3 linked regions of the Homo sapiens genome follow. The protein of the gene in region 2 interacts with the protein of the main gene of each other region in a pairwise test. Each region holds a gene or a part of one and is shown on either strand. Other genes may lie near its edges. The genes, in order: GMCL2, XAGE2 and GMCL1.

Region 1 (8,384 bases), on a different chromosome or scaffold from region 2:
CCTCAGCCTCCCAAGTAGCTGAGATTACAGGTGTGTGCCACCAGGCCCGGCTTATTTTTATTTTGTATTTTTAGTAGAGATGGGGTTTTACCATGTTGCTCATAGCTGATCTTAAACTCCTCAAATGATCCGCCTGCCTCGGCCTCCCAAAGTGCTGTGCTTACATGTGTGAGCCACCATGCCCGGCTGACGCCCAGCTGAAATGTAACCTCTTGATAACAGCCAAATCACTGTATTAGAAACATTTAAATTCCAGCTCTGGGGGTCAAGGGTGAGGCATTTAAAAGGTTCCTTTAAGTTAAACCAAGTAGATGAATTTTAAAAGAAAAAGCAATTTATGAACCTATGGACATATCATTAAGAAAGAAAAAAAATTATTAGTAAATTCCAAAAGTTAAAAGGAGTTGGAAAAAAATCTAACTAGAAAGAAAAAAAATGTTGGTTTCAATTAAGGGGGGTTTTTTGGTCCATTTCATATAAGAGCTTACTTAATCTTTTTCCAAATGCGCATTTATTATTTGCACAGATACATACAAATTATTCCCATTTTAAAAGCCAGAATAAAAATATACATTAACCACAGAAGTACTTACTCTAACTGGAAAGAAAATGAACATGGCTCTATTCAAAACAGCAGTAAACACAAAAGGTCAACATATATAAATCATGACAAGTGTACATCTTATTTTTGACAAAAATAAGTTCCATTTTTACATTAATGCGTCATCAGCTTCTATGTTAGATCCTCTGACCTTATTTACATTTACTATGAAATTGCTGTTAGCATGTCACTCAAAGCCACTCATCTCAGAGGGTATCAAGTCCTGAGCTTAAGTAGGAAACAAAACTCCCAACTAAAATTTGAACATAAATAATTGTAAAGATCAGAGAATATTAAAATATTTAAAAGTATAATATCTGGTACATAAATAACTCAAAAACTAATAATAAAGGTGTACAGACTGTCAAAGAAAAGACCATGTAAGACAAGAAATATCCCTGGAATCAAACTGATTTTTCACGCATTCAAGATCATTTGAAGGTGTGAAGCTAACTTTCATTGTTCTTAAAATCCTAGGAAAGCCAAATTTTAAAAAATAGCATATGACAATGCTTAAGTTTAAAAAAAGTTTCTCAGCTTAGTCTCCAAACCAGGAAGAAAGTATTTAATGATTAAAAACAAGTATGAACTGGAAAGATATTAGACTAAAAGGAGGAATCATAATGAGCAGGTAAAAATATTAAAGGAAAGCTTTAAATGCCCCAGCTCAAAAGAGCATTTCTAATTGGCCATCCAAATTATTCTTTTAGATTATTTTAGCCAAATAAAAATAAATTTACAGATGGATAACTGAGGTCCACTAACATAAGGTAGAAACAAAGTTTAAGCTAAAAATTAAATCTATATTTTGTTGCAGATAAATGTGAGATTTACCTACAGTCATTTTCTGCTGATGCTGAATTAAAAGCATGAGTTGACATCGTACTGACAGAAATGGTTTGACAGATATTTTCTTGGCTTTAAAATGATTTTTTTTGTATATGCATAGAAATGCAATGAGGATAAGAATAGTCTTCTGTATTGTCCGTACAGTTCATAAGGCCTTTGTCATTGTTAGTCAACTTAGATGTGAATATCAGTAGGGCCATTAAATTAAAGCTGGCCTGAAAGTTTTCAAAGTGCTACTGTTTCCAACTGATGAGATCTTCAGTTTTCTGGATTTTCTGGGTGACGATTATTTTCAATTCCTTTTTCTGGTGATATATACAAGAAGTTACAGCAGATATATAAAGGGAAGGTCAGAAACCTGCTGTCCAAGTTCATCACCACTTGTTCCTGATCCTTTTTAAGTATAAGTATTTGATAGCCAGTTGTTCTACTACATACTAGTTTTCCACTACTATCAAAAGAAGCCAAGCGTAATCTAAATGCTATGCTCCTTCGAGGCCGTAAACTGACAGACCCGCTGCGTGGCTGATTCAGTGTATTGCGTTTGAAAATGATGTATCCATTGGTGTAAATTACAAGTAGGTCAAAGCCGAAGTTAAAACCCGTCCAACACCAGTAGTATTCACCATCTTTGGCAAGCTTTCTACCACACCTCATGCTATTTCCCTCTAGGTCTTCTTTATTGATTTCTTGAGGCCCTACCTCACGGTCTTGTTCTGCCCGCAGCATAGCAAACCACTGCTGTTTATACACAGAAGACAGCCATTCTGAAGGTACTATACCATCTTGTTCAATAATTCTTGCAGAAGCTAGGTCACTGATAATATATTGTAACCTTAAATGTCTGAATACTGACACAAATGGTTTTCCTGGTTCAGTTTCAAGAAAGGCCATACCTTCAAAATCTTTTCTCTGTTTAGAAAACCAGACATCTGTTTCTGTCAAAAGCTGTTTTAAAGATCCATTCCAAGAAGGCACAAGTTGAAGGAACATCCACTTTTTTAGAGTGGTGTATACATCCATCTCCACTTGCATCACAAATAAGTTAGAGGAACCAATGAGCTGTTTCATGACATTTATACCGAGTTCTTTAAAAAGTTTAACATTCTGGTGAGTCATCAAATTGTTTAGAAGCCATTCAAGGCACTTTTTCTTTACAGAATCTAATCCATAGATCTCTACTGATGTGTAATAACCGCATACAGTTTTCACATTAATTGTTTCCTTCATTGTCTCACCACACTGCTGTATTAAACCATCCAGCTGCAGCATACAAGCTGCTGCCAAAATGGCAACAACTCGACTGGGTTTTATCAAGACATCATCTCGATACAGTGAACCAAACGCAACCTGCAGTGCGTCTACATCAATGTTCTGGTCAGGAATCTCCAGTTCAATAATATTCATGCTGGATTCTTTCCAAGAACCACTGAACATACTAGAAAAGTAGCCAGATTGACATAAATATATTTTGTGTAATCGCCATTCTTCTCCTAGAGCACAAATCTTAATGTCACTGTTTTCACCATTCAAAAATAATGTTTGATAAATATATTTGGATGTACTCCTTAATTTTTTCCTTGCAGGGGTGTTGAGGAGCGGCTGCTGCTTGTCCCCCTCCTCCTCATGCTCCTCCCTGTGCGAGTCCGGGTCACAGTAGCGGCAGGCCCCGCTGCTCCGCTTGCGCTTGTGACTGCCCGGGCAGTAACAGAAGCCGTAGCTCGCCGCATCGTCTCCAGTGTCCGGCCTCCGGGCCGAGCCCCTGGCCCTGGCACCCTGTTCCTGCTGGGCAAGGGCTCGCCTCGGCTGGCCCAGCACCCGGCTGCTCGACGATCCCATGGGTCACGGCTCCCCAGGACTTCAGGGAGCCCAGAGGAGGGGGTCTCTGGCCATGGCCCGGCCGCCGCCGCCAGCCTTCCCCGAGCACAGGTGCCTACACCGCCACCTTCTCACGCGCAGCCCCAACCGTTGCAGCGGACACTGCCGCCTCCAACCTCCGCACCCCTCCCCCACAATTTTTTTTTTTTTTTTTTTTTGAGACGGAGTCTTGCTCTGTCGCCCAGGCTGGAGTGCAGTGGCGCGATCTCGGCTCACTGCAACCTCTGCCTCGCGGGTTCAAGTGATTCTCCTGCCTCAGCCTCCTGAGTAGCTGGGATTACAGGCGCCCGCCACCACACCTGGGTAATTTTTGTATTTTTAGTAGAGGCGGGGTTTCCCCATGTTGGCCAGGCTGGTCTCAAACTCCTGACTTCAGGTGATCCTCTTACCTTGGCCTCCCAAAGTGCTGGGACTACAGGCGTGAGCCACTGCCTCCGGCCTAAAACAATTTCTTTTAGAGACAAGGTTTCACTGTGTTTCTCCGGGTGGTCTTGAACTCCTTGGACAGCATTCTTCATTGCTGGAAGCAATTCTCATCTGGCAGCCAAAACCAAGGTCCGTTTTAGAAGGACCACTTCCCTAGGAGCAAAGTTTTATTTGCAAGACCTGACAAAGGAAAATGTGTGTACCAGACGCTTGAGCCTAACCAGTCCAATGTAAATTTGCGACCAGGCACAAAAATAAAATAAAATAATAAAATAAAATAGGCCAGGCTCGGTGGCTCATGCCTATAATCCCAGCACTTTGGGAGGCCAAGGTGGGTGGATCACATGAGGTCAGGAGTTTGAGACTGGCCTGGCCAACATGGTGAAACCCCATCTCTACTAATAATATAAAATTTAGCCAGGTGTGGTGGTGCACGCCTGTAATCCCAGCTTTTCGGGAGGCTGAAATGGAGAACTGCTTGAACCCAGGAGGCAGAAGTTGCAGTGAGCCAAGATCGCATCATTACATTCCAGCCTGGGCGACAAGAGCGAAATTCCGTCTCCAGAAAAAAATAATAAGATAAAATAAAATAGAATAAAGACTTGAAGTCAAGCCAGGTACGGTGGCTGCTCACACCTGTAATCCCAGCACTTTGGGAGGCCGAGGTGGGCAGATCACGAGGTCAGGAGTTCAAGACCAGCCTGGCCAATATGGTGAAAGTGACCATGGCTGGGTGAAATGATCACTGCAGCCGGTCTGGGAAGGCAGAAGCAAGCAGAGGGCCTGGGCAGGATAGGCAGGGATTCTCTGTGGGGAGGATCTGTGGAGACAGGGGCAGCAGGATTAGGATGTCGGAATTGAGGAGGCTTTTGTCCTTGGGGGATGGAGTGGAGAAGTGGGGCATGGTCCTGGAAATTTGCCCTGCAGCCTCACCAGGCCATCTGGAAGCTACTTGTTGGGAACCCCGTGTGTGTAAAGGGCTGACCCAGGCCCAGACCCGGAGGAACTGGAGAAGGGCACACACTGAGACCACCCGAGGGGTGTGCTGGAACTGCTTGGCCAGTCCTTGGGGATGGGATGGCTGGGGCATGTGGGTGTCTTCCTGTAAGAAAACAGGACTTGATGAGGAAGGTGGGAGGCTGTTCCAGGCAGATGGAGGTCTGTGCCCCCAGAGCAATGTAGGAGTCGCCATGCGGGGCTCCATCTTTGGTACAGTGGGGGCAGAGATTGGCGAGGGGCATCAGGGCCAGATATGTAGGTGTGGGGAGCCCTAGATGGGCCAGTGCTGCAGGGGGAGGCAAGGTCATGCCAGGGAGGTGGATGGGACGCTGGACACAAGTGAAGAGTGACCAGCCCTGTGGCTTCCTCAAACCTATGTGAGTGCCTGCCCCATTCCCAGATGAAGAAAACAGAGGTTTCAATAGGGAAAGTGACTTGTTCTAAATCCCAGAGTTGGGAAGTCAGGAAGCTCAGCCTCCTGATTCCAAAGGCAAATCTGGAGTTTCTGTTGGAGTTAAGGGGCCAGGTGAATGGTCTATGTTGACCAAAAAAAAAAAAAAAAAAAAAAAAAAGCTCTGTAAAATGTTTAAAGAAGTTTATTCTCTGGCGTGAACCCGGGAGGCAGAGCTTGCGCCACTGCACTCCAGCCTGGGTGACAGAGCGAGACTCCATCTCAAAAAAAAAAAAAAAAAAAGAAGTTTATTCTCAGCTGATATGAGTGACCATGACCTGGGGTACAGTCTCAAGAGGTCCTGAGAAAGTGTGCCTCAGATGGTTGGGTTATAGTTTGGTTTTATACATTTTAGGGAGACAGAGGTTACAAGCAAATACATCAATCAATACATGTAAAGTACACATTGCTTCAGCCTATAAGGGCAGGACAACTCCAGGGGAGTTACAGGTCATAGGTGATTCAAAGGTTTTCTGATTGGCAATTGGTTGAAAAAGTTAAGCTTTGTCTAAAGAGTTGAAGTGGCTGGGTACAATGACTGACATCTGTAATCCCAGCACTTTGAGAGGCCGAGGAGGATGGCTTGATCCCAGGAGTTTTCAACAAGCCTGGGCAGCGTAGTGAGACCCGGTGTCTACAAAAAAATTTTAAAAATTAATTGGGCATCGTGATGTGCACCTGTAGTCCCAGCTACTTGGGAGGCTAAGGTGGGAGGATTACTTAAGCCCAGGAGGTCGAGCCTATGGTGAGCCATGACTGTGACACTGCATTCCAACTCGGGGGACAGAATGAGACCCTGTCTCAAAAATAAAATAAAACAGGCCAGTTGCAGTAGCTCACACCTGTAATCCCAGCACTTTGGGAGGCCAAGGCAGATGGATCACTTGAGGTCAGGAGTTCAATACCAGCCTGGCCAATATGGTGAAACCCCATCTCTACTAGAAATAGAAAAATTAACTGGGAGTGGTGGCATGCATCTGTAATCCCAGCTACTCTGGAGCCTGAGGCAGGATAATTGCCTGAACCTGGGAGGTGGATGTTGCAGTTAGCCGAGGTCGCACCATTGCACTCCAGCCTGGGCAACAAGAGTGAAACTCCATCTCCAAAAAAAATAGTAAGATAAAATAAAATAAAGAGTTGAAGGCATGGTGGCTCACGCCTGTAATCCCAGCAGTTTGGAGGCCAAGGAGGGCAGATCACGAGGTCAGGAGTTCGAGACCAGCCTGGCCAATATGGTGAAACCCTGTCTCTACTAATAGTACAAAAATTAACTGGGTGTGGTAGCACACATCTGTAGTCTCAGCTACTCTGGAGGCTGAAGCAGGAGAATCGCTTGAACCCAGGGAGGTGGAGGTTGCATTGCACTCCAGCCTGGGCGACAGAGCGAGATTCCATCTCAAAAAAAAAAAAAAAAGCGTTGAAGTCAGTGGGAAGAAATGCTTGGGTTAAGAAAGGGGTTGTGGAAGCTGAGGTTCTTGTTACGTAGATGAAGCCTCCAGGTAGCAGCCCTCAGAATAGATAGTGAATGTCTCTTTTCAGACCTTCAAAAGTCTCAGACTCTCATTGAATCTCTCCTAAATCTGACAAAGTCCTGGCTACATTAATGGAAATTCTCTACAGATGCAAATTTCCCCCATGGGAGACAGCTTTGCAGGGCCATTTCAAAATATTGTCAAATAAATATATTTTGGGGTAAAATATTTTGATGCCCTTCAGGGTCTGCTATCTGTTACGTGATGTACCAGAGTCAGGTAGAAATTTGGCATCTTATTGCTACAAAAATTCTGTTTTGAGCCAGGCACGGTGTCTCACACCTGTAATCCCAGCACTTTGGGAGGCTGAGGTGGGTGGATCACCTGAGGTCAAGAGGTCAAGAGTTTGAGAGCAGCCTGGCCAACATAGTGAAACCCCATCTCTACTAAAAATACAAAAAATTAGCTGGATGTGGTGGTGGGCGCCTGTATTCCCAGCTACTCAGGAGGCTGAGGCAGAAGAATTACTTGAACCCGGGGGCCAGAGGTTGCAGTGAGCCAAGATCATGCCATTGCACTCCAGCCTGGGCAACAAGAGCGAAACTCTGTCTAAAAAAAAAAAGTCTGTTTTGTCAGTCTTATGATCTCTATTTTATTTATTTATTTTTAATTTATTTTATTTTATTTTTGAGACAGAGTTTCACTCTCGTTGCCCAGGCTGGAGTGTAATGACGCTATCTCGGCTCACTGCAGCTTCTACCTCCCAGGGTCAGACAATTCTTGTGCCTCAGCTTCCCAAGTAGCTGAGATTACAGGCATGTGCCACCATGCCTGGCTAATTTTTTGAATTTTTTGTAGAGATGGGGTTTCATCATGTTGGCCAGGTTGGTCTCGAACTCCTGACCTCAAGTGATCCACCTGCCTTGGCCTCCCAAACTGCTGGGATTACAGGAATGAGCCACTGCGCCTGGCTAGAATAAATACTTTATGCTTTGGGCCAACAGGCAAAATCGAGGGTATGAAGTCGGTAAGTACATACCAAGAAATGAAACCAACTTCCATAATTTGGGGGGATTGCTATTGACAGAATGTCAAAGTTAATTTATGGATGCTGAAAGTTGAGTTTCATACAATTTTTATGTGTCATGAAATATTATTATTTTCATTATTTATTTATTTATTTGTTTATTTATTTATTTATTTTTGATACAGAGTCTTGCTCTGTCATCCAGACTGTGATCTCAGCTCACTGCGACCTCTGCCTTCTGGGTTCAAGCGATCCTCTGCCTCAGCCTCCCAAGTAGCTGGGATTACAGGCACATGCCACCACACCTGGCTAATTTTTTTGTATTTTTAGTAGAGATGGGGTTTCACCATGTTCAAGGCCAGGCTGGTCTTGAACTCCTGACCTCAAGTGATCTGCCTGCCTCAGCCTCCCAAAGTGCTGGGATTATAGGTGTGAGCCACTGCACTCAGCCTGATTTTTTTTTCAATGATTTAAAAATGTAAAAACCATTCTTTGTTCAGGGATCATATAAAATCAAGCAGTAAGCAAAATTTGGGCTATGGGCCATAGTTTGCCAACTCCTGGTCTAGATCTGCCCTGTTCATCATAGTAGCCACTGGCTACATGCAGCTATTGAGTACTTGAAATGTGGCCAGGGACAGTCACGATGGCTCACACCTGTAATCTCAGCACTTTTGGAGG
Region 2 (8,200 bases):
ATCGGCTTCCAGGTCAGGCACTAAAAAATACAAAGGTTATTGAACTTGAGTACAAAAACATGAAGTATAAATAAGGAAGTAATAATATTCTATTCCACAGAGTTATGACATAAAAGCCTGTAGGCTAGTGTGATAATAAATGTGATGCAAAGCTGTCACACTTTTGTTTTCCTGTATTATGAATTCCTATTTTATTTGTTTTTTAATACAGGGTTTCACTCTGTCATCCAGGCTGGAGTACAGGGGTGCAGTCACAGGTGACTGCAGCCCTGACCTCCTGAGCTCAAGTTATCCCCCTGTCTCAGCCTTGTGAGAGGCTGAGACTATAGGCACATGCCACCACCAAGGCTAATTTTTGTATTTTTTTGGCAGAGAAAATTTTCTGGTGTTTCCCCATGTTTCCCAGGCTAGTTCCTAACTCTCAGGCTCAAGGGACCCACCAGCCTCGGCCTTCCAAAGTGCTGGGATTACAGGTGTGAGCCAATGTACCTGGCCTGAAATCTAATATAAAATGACAATCTAAGGATAAATCACACTACACCTTCATTTCCTATACTTTGCCAGTGTGCATTATAAACAGTGAGTATCAACTATGTAAGATATCTGAAGTTTGCTGCATGAATAGCATTTTAATAATAACTCAAAGATAATTTTCTGAAAGACTAGATCAATGTATTCCTGGGCTTATGACAAAAACTTACAATTGTGACAACCATATCTTGCTGAGGTAATTTGAAAATTATTTGGTTAAAATTAATTAAAATTATGCTTAGGTCCAAAGGCCCTAAATGTAACTTTTCATAAATAAATCCTATTGAGAATATAGTACCAAAAATAAGAGGAAAAAAAGTCACAGTTTTCCCATGAGAATTCAGGAAATTGAGTGAAAGAAAGTAATGAGTGTTGTTGACAGTCATATTCTGGAAACCTCTTAACCGTGAACTGCTAAAATAATCCATGGTCCAAATTCCGTCAACTTTAGCTTGAAAATGCTATCTGTTGAGGACACAATTTCTGTTTCATGATAATTGTATCATACTTTGAGTTTTCTAATTATAAAAGTATTTAGGCAACTTTTAAAAGTTCCTTAAAAAGCATACTAATATACCTACCTGTATGCCAGTGTCCTGAACTATCCACCTTTTACCAAACATACTGTCAAAAAATACTGATCAAAGGGAACAGTGGCTGTCATTCATTGAGCCCTTTTCCGGATTTGCTATCCTGCTTCACTGAATTTGTTTTCTCCTGAGCCAATACTCAAGTACCTTACAGTACAGACACATTCGAGTATTAAGCGTTTTAAGCAAAATAATTCACGTTTTCTAATAACGTAGATGTTAGGAAGAACACAGACCTTGGAACGTAATATGAATTCTGCCTCCATGACTCAAGCGTTCTTGGTAAGCCTCTATCTCTGAGCAACCATTTCCTTTTTATAAAATAGGGCTAATATCCCTATGCAAATGGGCTTTATTCAGGGTGTTATAAGGTAGGGTGACTTGGCACTCTATATGCTATAAAAGGGTGCTTATAACACTGTGGACACCATGGCTGAGCCAATCATACAGCAACATTCTAAGAAGATCAAATTAATCAAGTGAAATAATGTACATTTTGATACATCAAATTAAACAGTTTCATCTGATTTAGCAAGGGATGTATTTTCAAGCATACAAAATAAATCTTGAAAAAAAGAGAAGATTTATTATATCCAGGGACTGCATGAAGCTGCAAACTATACTCTTCACTTTTCCAGCCTACTTTGAGCAAGTGCTTGAGATCCTTTCCTAATGTTTTCTTTCCTCCTATTACTGGTCATGGCATAAGGCATGATGGACACATAGGCCTCCTTCCCCCTATAGGCATTATTTCTTTCCTTTCCCAGCACCTTGAATCTCAGCTGCACCCTGATCATCTTCTCTCTTCTGATCAGGTGTAGGATTCCGACTTTTAGTGGGTGGTTTCTCTTCTTTAGGCTCTTCATCAGTGGGTTCCTGGGACAAAGGGGAGGCAGTATGTGTGCAGATAAAAAGTTTTGTTAGTAATACATGTCAATAATACAAATATACAGAATACACAGGTATTTCTAATCACAAGTAAGTCTAAAGACACTTCTCCAACACTGTTCCACATACTTATTCTTCACAAAGTTACTCTTCCCAAAGAGAGGTTACTCTAAGACAGTTACCCTCAAAGGCTTTGGAAACCATTTTAATCTATGTTGGGTTGGATGTGTGCAATCTGTTATCAGTAAGCATGAGGAGGAAGTCATGATGGGGAACACAAGATTATCCATGAAGGCAAAATCAGATTGTAATACTCTTGGATTAGTCTTTCCTTCATGAGATGCATGATCATTTTTATCAACATGGAAGACCTTTATCAGTGTATCTATACTAGTTCAACAACACTATCACAAAAGAAATTTCTGCTAATAAAAAACATCAAAATATTAAAGCACTCACAAGCATAGCCCCAATCAGCTCAGGAGGCTGTAAACTTCTTCTTGGCCTAGGCCTATATGTTGATCTTCCTCGCCAACTCATATTTCACTCTGCAAACAGAATACTGTGATTGGGAAAGTGTGTTTGAGAGGATAGCTGTATTTGACCACTTTCATGGCCAAATGTTAAATTTCAGTTTTTAAAAAAGTTTGGAAATAATTTGAAAGTAAGTCCCAGGGCAACTAGAAGTGTGTACATCTTCTGAATCGAATGCTTGCATAGCCACTTAAGTTGGGCAATCTAGCAGAGCAATGTCTTAATGCTCCTGGCAAAAGATACAGGATATTTCTGATGAGATTTGGTTTCACAGTTGGATTCTCCATAGTGGAGACATTTAAGTTTATACAGCTAGAGAATTAAAACTGCAGTGACCACGGCTTTCGTCACACACCCATTTGTTTGGACGATTTCCCTCCCTAAAATCAAGGTTTTGTTGGAAAGCACAGTCCCGCCCATTCGAACCTCCAGGGTGGAGTTGAGAAGTTGTGACACATCACTGGACGCTCCTCGCTGGACATTTCTACCCGGAGCTCTACAGACCTCGGGGTCGCGGTCACCAGCTCATAGCATTCCCACTTCCCAGGCCCCTTTCTTACCGCTTACACAGCCCATTCCTGGGTCCCTACCAAGAAGTCTGGAATCTGTCCCATTGGGAGTTCCAGGCACTTTCGGGACTCAGATACCTCCAACAGCACCCCGAGCATTCACCCTATCTTCATCTGGCTCCCCTTCACTCCGCGGCCCACCTTCCTTATGACCTGGAAGCTTTTTACTCTCTGAGGCCACAGACCACGCCGCCTGACCCTCTGGAAGCCCGCTCACTCCTCCTCACATTCACTCACATTTCAGTTCCTGGGAGGACTGGCCTGCGGACCTATAGGCTGCGTCTCAGTAGGAGAGAAAGAGTCCAGACGGCTGGAACGTGCCCCTCACACTCTCACAGCTCCCCAGCGGTCACCACGTGGGCAAAGGGGTCGAAGGGAAGATGCCCAGTGAACATGCACACTGAGGCAGGTGTCCAAGGAACATGCACACTGAAGTCGGTGCCTGCGTTGTGTGCTGCAGTGCCCCGCCTCGCCCCACCCCATCCCGCGTCATGCAGTCCTCCCTCCCCTCCCTGGTTCCCACTGAGGACTCTGGAATGCATCGTCTGTAAGCAGTTTCATATGCCTCGCGGACTCAAATACCACAAATAGTTTCCCCCTTCAAAACTCACTGCTTGTTTACCTGACCCTCCTCCCATCTATGGTCCTTCTCCCTCCCTTGTCCGGCACCCCCACCACAGCAAGGCCATGGCTGCATCGCTGCGTGTTAGAAGGACGGGGACCTCAAAGCCCTTCCACCTAGGAGGCCATGGATCGTGCCCGCAGGCTCCTCCTCACACTCACTCACACTCAAACTTCTAGGACTACTGAACTGCAGACCTACTGGCTGACTCCTAGTCGGCAAGACAGAAGGAAGTCACGATGTCTCTTTGCACAGCTCTGCTGGGACAGAAGGCAGACAGTAAGGCGCATGGGCAACAAGGGACTTGGGCAGTAAGGGGCGTTCACACTGAGTCAGGCACATGCAAGGCCAGCCAGGGTTTTCCCACTGTCCCAAAACCAGAATCCCCAGTATGTTTGTAGTAGAAAGAAAGGGACTTAAGAGATATTTTTTTTTCTCTCTCTCTTGTCCTACCATTCTCATGCATCCAGAAACTTTGGGAACAGAGAGTCCCATGTCACCCTTAGTGGTTGATGTGTCTCAGAAAGACCTTTTGTGACAGAAATAAATTATTTTAATGTTTATATTTATACATGCTTTTTTTTTCCAGACAGGGTGTTACTTTGTCGCCCTGGATGGAGGGCAATGGCATGACTTTACCTCACTGCAGCCTGGATCTCCTGGGCATAAGCAATACTCAAGACGCAGCCTCCGAAGTAGTTGGGACTACAGGTGTGTGCCACCATGCCCAGCTATTTTATTTATTTATTTACTTAGAGACAGAATCTCACTACATTGTCCAGGCTGGTCTCAATTTCTGGGATCGAGTGATCCTCCCACCTTGGCCAATTTTTATTCATACTTTGATTAATCACTTCCTTCTCTGGTCTGAGGTTTTCTGCCATGCTACCAATGAATAGAACCACTTCTGTAGACTAAATAAATTCACACCTCTTCCTTTTTTAGGTGGTATTATTGCACATTTTAATCTCTGGACTGGTAACTGATTTCCCTGAATATACCTGTAGGTCATTCAGACAGTGTATGGTTCAGAAATATCCATACATATGATGTGGTTTGACTCTGTCCCCACCCAAATCTCTCCTTGAATTGTAGTTCCCATAATCCCCACATGTCATGGAAAGGACCCTGTGGGAGGTAATGTAATCATGGGGTGGTTACCTTCATGCTGTTCCCCTGATAGTGAGTAAGTTTTCACAAGATCTAATGGTTTTATAAGGGGCTTTTCCCCTTTTGCTCACTCTTCTCTCTCCTGCTGCCATGTGAAGAAGGATGTGTTTGCTTCCACTTCTTCCATGATTGTTAAGTTTCCAGAGGCCTCCCCAGCCCTGCAGAACTATGAGTCAATTAAACCTCTTTCCTTTATAAATTACCCACTCTCAGGTATGTCCTTATAGCAGCATGAGAACGGACTAATACAACATTGGTCCTAGGATTTAAACTTAGTTTATTGTGACATGATGTACAGCAGTGGTGACTGTGCTCATCATATACTCTACTCCCCAAATAGCAGCCAAATAACCTGTTCATAAGACAGCGCTGACATTATTTAAATAAAGCTATAAGGTAGAGCACTACCTCCACAGAGGCACTAGTATGTCAGATGTGGAAGGGCTTTGGGTATATTTGTTGTGCTTTTCATGTCCGGTATAAAGTGGGTATTTTAAAGTGGGGGATGGTTTGGTTAGAATTGGGTAGGAATGACAATGATTTAGGATTGGTGGATGCAACAAGACTTTTTAGGCAATGGGTTCAAAGAGTTTTGGGATTGAAAAATGTCATTTGACACTTTTTATTGAGGAGTTGATGGATCTTTCAGGCAATTGCTGGAAAGAACAATAAAGTTTTTTTGAAACTTTTATTTTCCTTGGTAAGAGATTCCTGTATTAGTAAAATTATGATAATGAAGACAGTGGAATATAAACTCTTGTTAATGTAGACAGTAAACTATGTCCATGACTCCTGTTCTTATTACTTTTATATTACCTAGCAGTTAATGTGGGGAATAGTATATGGAAGGGAAGGATAGGAAGGGAGCCCTGATCAGAATGTAGCCTTTTATAAATAAATTAGGATATATTGTTGAACTGACATCTATATATTCTATCTAGTTGAGCTTCTTTTTTTTTTTCTTTTGAGACGGAGTCTCACTCTATTATCCAGACTGGAGTGCAGTGGCATGATCTTTGGCTAACTGCAATATCTGCCCCCCAGATTCAAGTGATTCTCCTGCTTCAGGCTCGCAAGTAGCTGGGATTATAGGCACGTGCCAATACACCCAGCTAATTTTTGTATTTTTAGTAGAGACGGAGTTTCACCATGTGGGCCAGGCTGGTCTCGAACTCCTGACCTCAAGTGATCCGCCCACCTCGGCCTCCCAAAGTGCTGGGATTACAGGTGTGAGCCACCGTGCCTGGCCACAGCTGCACTCCTTTTAAGGAAATACCCTGAGTAGGAAAAAAGAGATTCCTCAATCTCTGTCTCCAAAAAGTGGCTTGAGTAGTCATTGTAGTTCTCAAAGTTTATTTAAGGAGTGAGGGCACTCATAAACTATTATTTAGTTTATCTGTTATCTTTTTTGTTTTTTCTTGGCAAGGACATTGTCATTACTAAATTTTACTTGCATTTTTCCCTTATTAACTCCGGTTTTTAGTATAGTGCACTCAGAAATGTTCAAAGAATGAGAGATAGTGACATCTGGGTTTAGATTTTCTGTGAGCATCGAATTAGCAAATGGTCAAAGTCATGCCATCAGATGGCTGGATGGATGTGCTTCACAAGGACCTGGATTTTAATGATTCCTGAGTGGACACACTCCAGCTTCAAAGGGCAGGTTTTAACTTCCTCCCAAATTTGAGCTTCCTCCTGTTATTCCCATGGCAGGTGACCCTGGTCCAGCTGGATGAGTTCAAAGGATCATAATTGGATTGGGATGGGAGCAAGTTGTGAAGTAGCCCTTGTGACACTCACAGGAAGCAGCAGAAAGTATGAGAAACTCTTTAGAGGCAAGAAGACTTGCCTGATACATGACGCTAGCAACTCTGAGGGCTGCTAAAGGAGAAGTTGGAGCTGGGACCAACACAGCCCATCTACCTGTGGGTGGGCTCAATTTCACCACATGACAAGACCTTCCCATCCTCCAAGCACTGGAATATGAACAAACTGAGATTTCCACAGGACTGTGGCTGGGTGGGACAAAGTCTACAGATTCTGAGCAGCTGGCAGTTTTCAGAGTACCATAGTAAACACTGTCACCTGAGCTCTTCAGATTGCTTGTTGGTTGAGGTCAAATTATTTACTACCTACCATGTTAATTGCAACTCCCCTATTTGCCTCATAAAGCGGGAGCACAAAAGGGAAATGGAGGTCCCTGTGCATTCACAGGGAGGTCCGCGTGAATGGATGCAATTCATGACATTCAGCTATGCTGCAGCCCAAACAAAGCCTCCTCATGATACCAAGAGGACAAGAGGTCACATGTACTTTCTGTCCCTTTTGCATGTGATTTTATGTCTGTCCAAGTAACACTTCACCTGTGCAAAACAGACATGGTTATCTGCTGATGGAACACACATTTCCTCTGTAATTACATATTTCGTGGTAGCCTTTGTGGCCCATATCAAAGACCACGTTTTTGGCCAAGTGCAGTTGCACACACCTGTATTCCCAGCAATTTGGGAGGCCGAGAAGGGTGGATCACTTGAGGTCAGGAATTCGAGATCAGCCTGGCCAACATTGTGAAACCCCATCTCTACTAAAAATACAAAAGTTGGCCAGGTGAGGTAGTGCAGTCCTGTAATCCCAGCTACTCGGCAGGCTAAGGTGGGAGAATCGCTTGAACCTGGGAGGCAGAGGTTGCAGTGAGCCAAGACTGGGGTGACAGAGGGAGACTCTGTCTCAAAACAAAAAAAAAAAAAACAAACAAAAACGACCATTTTTTTTCTGAAAAGACTGAATTCCGAAGGAGGAAGACAACATTGGGTTCTCATGTGTCTTTTCATATACTTCTATAATAACACTTATTAACCATTGAGGATATCTTGTGAAAAGGCTTTAATCTTTTCCATACTGGTTTGTCATCCATAGTGGTTCATAAGATTAACGTTGTCCTCCACAAACAGCATTTTGAAGAAATGAGATAAAATAAATTAGTAAATAGCATTCACTGCATATAGAATATTCAAACAGACTGCACACACACATACACATACATATATTTATTTCCCTACTGAATTATATACAAACTATGTATTTCCCATGAATTGTAATTTAAAAAGTTTGAAGGTCATTACTTTAGAAGTTATTGGACAAAATGTCTAGGGACAATTTCTTTAGCCATTGATGAGGATGATAGATTAAGACTTGCTAAGAGCAAGTTCACTGTTGTCTGTAGCTTTCTACATAATGCTTGAAATAGCTCTGAGTGATGTTTAAATTTGTCAGTTTTACTGTGAGCATTTGACTCT
Region 3 (7,923 bases), on a different chromosome or scaffold from region 2:
AAGCTGCAGTGAGCCAAGATTGTACCATTGCACTCCAGCCTGAGTGACAGAGTGACAACCTGTCTCGGAAAAAAAAAAAAAAGTAAAAACTATAGAGTATCACAAATGTATTTTTAATATATAAAAGCTGTTAAAAATTAGCAAGAAAAAAATGAAATTTTAATAAAAAATTAAACAGGAACAATATAAGCTGTCAGTTTACATGAGATGATACGTTCAATAAGCATAAAAAAACCCAACAATACAGTAACCAAAGAAATGAAAATTGAAAATTAAGGGCCAGGCGCGGTGGCTCACACCTGTAATCCCAGCACTTTGGGAGGCCAAGGCAGGTGGATTACTTGAGGCCAGAAGTTCAAGACCAGCCTGGCTAACATGGTGAAATCCTGTCTCTACTAAAAATTAGTGCACTCCAGCCTGGGCGACAGAGCAAGACTCTGTCTCAAAACAAACAAACAAAAAGAAATGAAAATTAAAACAAATATTTGTTTTCACATTTACTACGCTGGGATAGAGATGAAAAAGAATAAGATACAATATTGGGTATACTCTCCTGTACTGCTGCCAGGGGGAAGTATAAATTGGACAGTAGCTTTGGAGGGCAATTTGGCCATTAGAAAATTGTATGCACCATGCAACAAGAATTCTACTTCTTGGAATTTATGCTTTAAAAATATCATAAAAATGGACAAAGATATATGTATATTTCCTATAGTAATGAAAAAAAATGAGAAACAACTTTATCCAATAAAGAGGAATTATCTAAGTTACGGTATAGCCAAAACAACTAATATTATGCCGTTCATAAAAATGATGCTGTGAATATATATTTATTGACCAAAAAAAGCTATGTACAACAAAGTGAAAAAAAAAAAAAAAGGTTACAATTACTACCTCACTGTCTGATGCACCTAGGCTCACCTGGCCTTGGGCTCTGAAAGAGGACCAAGCCTTTCTTCTACTGGGCCCAGGCCAGGTGACCCCATTTTGCCTCTCCCCCAGGCCTGACCACTATGCGACCAACAAGTTCTCCCAGGCCACTGACTTGGCCATGAAGAAGACAGAGGACAACAATGCACTTGTGTTCATTGTGGATGTCGAGGTCAAAAAGCATAAGATCAAACAGGCTGTGGAGGAGCTCTATGACACCAATGTGGCCAAGATCAACACCGTGATCAGGGCTGATGGAGAGAAGAAAGCCCATGTTCAGCTGGCTCCTGAGCATGCTGCTTTTAGAGGCTGCCAAAAAATTGGGATCATCTAAGTTGAATCCAGCTGGCAAATTCTAAATATATATGTTTTTCACCATTAAAAAAAAAAGCAGGTTACAAAATAGCTAACCTACTGTGATCCAATTTTGCAAAAATGATACAGGTGAAGGAAAAACTCAGCAATGTATCTGAGTGGTACATGTATGATTGTTGTTTCAGCTGACTCATATTTTCTATTTTTTCGACAACATCTATAACCTATATAAAACACGGAGACAACTCCCAAAGTAAATCTCCCAAACTCCATCCACAGCCCTCATGCCCTGGCTCTAGTTATACTGAACTCTTCCAACCATCTTTCAGTTCCTTGAATATGACCCATGTATTCCCTTGCTTCCGGAAATCTTACTCACCATTTGAGGCTTGGTTCAGGTATGCATTCACTTTAACACTTTTCCAGGAGAGGATGTTTTCCCTGAGCTGTCTTTCTTTCTCCTCCTCCTCCAATAACCACCCCCAACCACGGCAGCTGCTCAGTTACAGGTCAGAGTCTTCTCCCTCAAGGTTGCACACTCTGAGCTAATTCTATCATGCTACTTACACTAGGCTATATTAACACAAGCCTGTCTTTATTTCTTCTACTTCTAGCTGAGAACCAAGCACATGGTGGGGACACAAATGTTTGCTGAAGGAACATGGGAATACAACTATTATCTTGGCCTGGTGCTTTTTTAGGTCTCTGGCTGGGTTTGAGCCATGACAGTATTTTTCATGAAGTTTCAGGTAGAAGATAAAGATAGTCATTGTCTGTTCAGCTGCAGAGGTTACAAGAAGGACCAACAGAGAGTTCTGATGGAGGCAGATTTGGACTTTCTCATTATATACCTGCCTTGAAATGGACATTCCTACATATTACCTTTCATGTAAGATGGGGGTCAGTTAGAGTTTCAACAATGGGTGGATGACCCCCTCTGTAAGAATGCTGTTAAAAGAAGTTCTCATATAGGGCATGTGAGGTTACAATGATCACTTCCGGGGTTACTTGCAATGCTAAGGATGTTCTATGATAGTCTCTTCAGTCTGAGGAAAACTACTAACTTCTCATAATTTATGTAAACTATAACAGGCTTTGAATCCTTTAATAAAACATTATGCCCTTTGGAATGATGATTACTTTTAATAGAAATAAAGTTCCTCAATATTTTAACAGCTTTCAGTTTTACTTTTAAAAATGGTCTACTTTCTCATCATGACACTTTGAAACTTCTCCATGTGTGTGATGTATGAATAAATAAATGGCTTTGGAGATAATCTGGGGAACATTGCAGAGTTTGCCATCTTACGAACCTAATGGGCTAGAGAATAATGCTCTTATGATATTCGGAGCTATGGAGACATACAGGATTGTCTTTAAGATGCCTGCTGTGAATGTATAAATAAATGCACTATGTACACAATGGATAAAGCACTTAAGATTCCTAAAATTTTAGGAATGAATTTTAGTGCTGCTGATATTCAGGATAAACAATTATTTCCTTATAATCAGTGTTTCCCTGCCCCTCAAACAGTGTTTTCTTTTTTTCTCCTAATTATGCTTCCATTGGGATGGGGTCAATTATGCATAAGTGAATGTGGTACTTTCATCTTTACCTTCAAAAGACTTTTAAACCAACTTTTAGGTCAAAATGCCATCACTTTAATGTTAATTCTACTTAAGAATTTTCAAAAGAGGATTCAAAAGACAAATATTATGATGACATACCAGAAGATAATCGAACATACCTGATCCTTTTCAAGTGTAAGTATTTGATAGCCAGTTGTTCTACTACATATTAGTTTTCCACTACTATCAAAAGAAGCCAAACGTAATCTAGGATTAAAAAAAAAATAAAAAATAAACACAAGATTTTTAAACCACAGATTAAACAAGCTCTTCCTTACTTTCATATTTACTTTTTCCTCTGTTTTTTATTTGATAAAAGACTTTTAGGAAGTCTTTTCAAACTGTAATCTGACTGCATTCAGTGACAAGCCTGTGCTATTATACATATCTGGCCAAGAGAAATCATTTATAAATGTTTTTATTGTGGTAAAATATACGTAACATTTATCATTTTAACCATTTTAAAGTATATAGTTCTGTGGCATTAAATATATTTCCACATTGTTCTGCACCCATCTCTAGAACATTTTAATTTTCCCTCGCTGAAGCTCCTTACCCATTAAACACTAACTCCCCACTTTCCCTTCCCTCAGGCCCTGGCAACCACCAGTGTATCCTCTGTACCTATGAATTTGTCTACTCTAGGTACTTCGTATGAGTGGAATCTTACAATATTTGTGCTTTGTGAGTGGCTTATTTCACTTGGCATGTCTTCCAGGTTCATCCATGTTTAGCATGTATGAGAATTTGCTTCCTTTTCAAGGCTAAATAATGTTCTATTTTATGTATATACCACATTTTGTTTCTCTAGCATCTGTCAGTGAACATGTGGGTTGCTTCCACCTTTTGGCTATTGTGAATAATGCTGTTATGAACATAAGTATACAAAAATATCTGTTTAAGTCCCTATTTTCAATTCTTCTGGTCTATAGAAGAGAAACTGCTGGATCATATGGTAATTCTGTTTAATTTTTTTGAGGAAGTGTCATACCATGCTCCATAGTGGCTGTGCCATTTTACATGGCCACGAGCAGTACACAAGGGTTCTAAATACTCCACATCCTTGCCAACACCTGTTACTTTTGTTGTTTTTTTTCTATTCTGTTTTTACTAATAGCTATCCTAATAGGTGTGAAGTGATAGCTCATTGTGATTTTGGTTTGTATGTCCCTAATTAGTAATGTTGAACATCTTTTCATGTGTTTATTAGCCATTTATATATCTTCTTTGGAGAAATGTTTATGGAAGTCTTTGGCCCATTTTTGAGCTGAGTTGAGTTTTCTTTTTAAATTATAGAGTTGTAGGAGTTTTCTATATATTCTGGGTATTAATGTCTTATCAAATGTAGCGTTACAAATATCTGCTCTCATTCCATGGGTTGCCTTTTCACTGTCTTGACACTGTCCTCTGATACACAAGTTTGTGATTTTGATGAAGTCCAATTTTATCTACTGCTTCTTTTGTTGCCTGTGCTTGGGTGTCTTATGGAAGAAATCACTGCCAAATCAATTGTTATGAAGCTTTTCCCCTATGTTTTCTTCCAAGAGTTTCATAGTTGCAGTTCTTATGCTTAGATCTTTGATCCATTTTAAGTTAATTTTTGTATTTGGTGTAAGGTAAGTATAAATATATGACTTTTAAATCATGTTCATTAAGCTACTGTCCAATTTGTCAGCTTCTGGTATCCTCTCAGAAAAAGATTGCCAGCAACTACTGGGCAAAATTTAACATATTAAATCCTTTAAAAAGTTAAGGATAATATGTGTTTTCCTGGAAACATACCTTGCTACATATTTCAACAGTCTGGATCTTTTATTTGCTAGGAATAGCAACAAGGCAACGACTTCAAGGCTGATATTCCCTACTGGTATATATTCCAGCCTATTCATTCTCCCTGACATACTAGATCCTATGATTCTGATTACTAACAATAGATTTCACAGGAATGGAGCCTCGTCATTTCCTACCACTTCCACATATACTGTAGCTTACCAAAGTTCTACTAATGTTGGTGTAAATTATCAAGGTTTTATTTCTTATATTTTCTCTGGAGTGAGGAGGAGTGGGGTGGGGAAATCTCATCCTACCTAAATGCTATGCTCCTTCGAGGCTGTAAACTGACAGATCCGCTACATGGCTGATTCAGTGTATTGCGTTTGAAAATGATGTATCGATTGGTGTAAGTTACAAGTAGGTCGAAGCCGAAGTTAAAACCTGTCCAACGCCAGCAGTACTAAAAAATACAAGAGAGAAGACTTATTTCAGTTTATCATATTAGCAAGTAGAAAATAAAAAATTCAAAATGTCTTTTTGTCTCTAACTCATTCCAAGTATTTCCCTCATGGGTGGTCGACTTTTTGTCAGTGACTTTTTCTTAAGGCTTACCACCCAAAACTATTTATCTAAGCTAGAAAAGCTGCCCTTAATGATCATAATTCTCTAAGCTACTTTCCTCTTCATGATCAGTTTCCTTATCTCTCCATACTGCAATTCTACCATAAATAATAAGGCTTTTTTTTTTTTTTTTTTTTTTTGAGACAGAGTCTCATTCTGTCACTCAGGCTGGAGTGCAGTGGCATGATCTTGGCTCACTGCAACCTCCACCTCCCGGGTTCAAGCGATTCTCCTGCCTCAGCCTCCCAAGTAGCTGGGACTACAGGTCCCTGCCACCACGCCCGGCTAATTTTTTTTTTTTTTTTTTTGAGACAGAGGTTTGCTCTAGTTGCCCAGGCTGGAGTGCAATGGCATGATCTTGGCTCACCACAACCTCCACCTCCCGGGTTCAAGCGATTCTCCTGCCTCAGCCTCCTGAGTAGCTGGGATTACAGGCATGCGCCAAGCCTGGCTAATTTTGTATTTTTAGTAGAGACGGGGTTTTTCCATGTTGGTCAGGCTGGTCTCGAACTCCCGACCTCAGGTGATCCGCCCGCCTCGGCCTCCCAAAGTGCTGGGACTACAAAGTGTAAGCCACTGTGCCCGGCCTTTTTTTTTTGTATTTTGAGTAGAGACGGGGTTTCACTATGTTGGCCAGGCTGGTCTTGAACTGCTGACCTTGTGATCCACACGCCTCGGCCTCCCAAAGCGCTGGGATTACAGGCGTGAGCCACTGCACCCAGCAATAATAAGGCTTTTCACTGCAACTCTAAGTGGGTATATAGCTTAGAGCACTAAGAGTTTCTAGAGCACTAAGGTAATTAAGAGCCCATTAAAATCCACCTTGCTTTAAAAATACTCTTAAGGGCTGGGTGTGGTGGCTCACGCCTGTAATCCCAGCACTTTGGGAGGCCGAGGCGGGTGGATCACCTGAGGTCTGAGGTTCAAAAACAGCCTGGCCAACATGGCGAAACCCCATCTCTACTAAAAATACAAAAAAGAATAAAAAAAAATAAAAATAAAAATAAAAATAAAATACTCTAACTCAAGTAACACACAACTGGGTTATTTAAATATCATCATGGGGTTCACGAGTTTGTTTATTCTATCAGCTAATAGTTAATGTGAGAGTATCAGATAAGGTAGTGTGATACAGAGAAGTAGTTAGGGCTTCAAGTGTTTGGCTGACACCCTGAATTGCAATTCAGTATTTAACTGATATTTATTGAGCACATATTATATGCCAGGCACTCCTCTAAGCAATGGAATCATAGCAGTAAATAACATACAGTTTCTGCCCTAGTAGAGGTGATAACTGTAAGGGCAAAGCTTTTTTTTTTTTAAAGAGACAGGGTCTCGTTATATTGCCCAGGCTGAACTCTAACTCCTGGGTTCAAGCAATTTTTCCACCTAAGCCTCCCAAGTAGCTGGAATTGCAGGTGCATACCACTGTGCCTGGCTGGAGCAAAGCTTTTGAATAGGTGAGCATGGATAGAGTCCAGTACAAAGAGAGGGAATGGACTAAGATAGAAGTAGGCAGTTCATTTTTCTAATAAGATGAAATGCATAGCGCATAGCTACAGGTGCAGGTAGACTGGCAGAACTACTGGTAAGATGATGTACAGATTCTCTTTTCATTGCAGTAGGCAGCAAGGCCATCAGATAAGAATAAGGGTGGGAGCATTGCCCTTTTAAGGAGAGAAGGTATGAGTTACCTCAGCTAATGGGAGGATCAATTCACTAGGAAAATGCAGACAGATCATGATGCAGCACTAACCTACTTCAAGTTCATGGTTACCACATTCAAGTGGAACCCAATGGGGTACGGTGTTTGTCTTTAATCACATTCATCTGTCTGGATGCAGGCATGGAGTGCAACCCTTGACAAGAGTTGGGGTTTAGCCAGGTGAGTTTAACATGTCAATGAGGAAAAAGAAAAGTTAAAAGAGTATAAGCAAGGGACCAATTTTACGATGGAACATAAAATATAAGTCAAGCAAAATAAGAAGTAGAAATGTGGTCAGAAAGGTGATAGGGAAAGGTTGTAAAAACAATGTATTGTATATCCAGAATGGAGTTAAAAAATTGTTGGAGTCCAGGTGCTAGAGAGAATGAGCTAGAAAGACGAGGTGGGGTCTGAAAACGGGATGCCTGAAATGGAGATTTTGAAGGTGGTGTAGTAATTAATAATGCAAAAATTGAGGGTATGCTCACAGGAATGGATGCCTGAGGTAGGGTGGAGCACAAGAGCATGGGGGAAGGAAGGTCAGGGAACAGAGATATTGAAATCAACACGACCGAGAATAAGAGTAGTGGTAAAGAAAGGTAGTGAGGGCTGGACGTGGTGGCTCATGCCTATAATCTCAACAATTTGGGAGGCCAAGGTAGGAGGACCACTTGAGCCCAGGAGTCTGAGAACAGCCTGGGCAACATAGTGAGACCTCGTCTCTACAAAAATTTTAAAAAATTAGCCAGGCGTGGTGGTGCATTCTTGTAGTCCCAGCTACTTGGGAGGCTCAGGTGGGAGGATCACTTGAGCCCAGGAAGTCAAGGCTTCAGTGAGTCATGATCATGCCACTACACTCCAGCCTGGGCAACAGAGTGAGACTCTGTCTCAAAAAAAAAAGAAAGAAAAGAAAAGAAAGGCAGTGAACTCAGTGAATTATGGCCACAATA

The links.
Region 1: the proteins of XAGE2 (region 2) and GMCL2 interact in binary tests that used the Homo sapiens proteins (3 or more experiments, as listed by UniProt).
Region 3: the proteins of XAGE2 (region 2) and GMCL1 interact in binary tests that used the Homo sapiens proteins (3 or more experiments, as listed by UniProt).

What each region holds. Positions count from the first base shown.
Region 1 is NC_000005.10:178,184,011-178,192,394, forward strand, and holds GMCL2 (germ cell-less protein-like 2), read right to left. Parts: upstream 3,362-8,384; 5' UTR 3,290-3,361; coding exon 1,709-3,289; 3' UTR 495-1,708; downstream 1-494. UniProt on the Homo sapiens protein: Possible function in spermatogenesis. Probable substrate-specific adapter of an E3 ubiquitin-protein ligase complex which mediates the ubiquitination and subsequent proteasomal degradation of target proteins.
Region 2 is NC_000023.11:52,364,364-52,372,563, reverse strand, and holds the start of XAGE2 (X antigen family member 2), read right to left. Parts: upstream 3,544-8,200; 5' UTR 3,350-3,543; intron 2,572-3,349; exon of another isoform or gene 2,558-2,571; 5' UTR 2,550-2,557; coding exon 2,469-2,549; intron 1,998-2,468; coding exon 1,892-1,997; intron 21-1,891; coding exon 1-20.
Region 3 is NC_000002.12:69,866,903-69,874,825, reverse strand, and holds part of GMCL1 (germ cell-less protein-like 1), read right to left. Parts: intron 7,128-7,923; exon of another isoform or gene 7,025-7,127; intron 5,108-7,024; coding exon 4,962-5,107; intron 3,082-4,961; coding exon 2,994-3,081; intron 1-2,993. UniProt on the Homo sapiens protein: Possible function in spermatogenesis. Enhances the degradation of MDM2 and increases the amount of p53 probably by modulating the nucleocytoplasmic transport.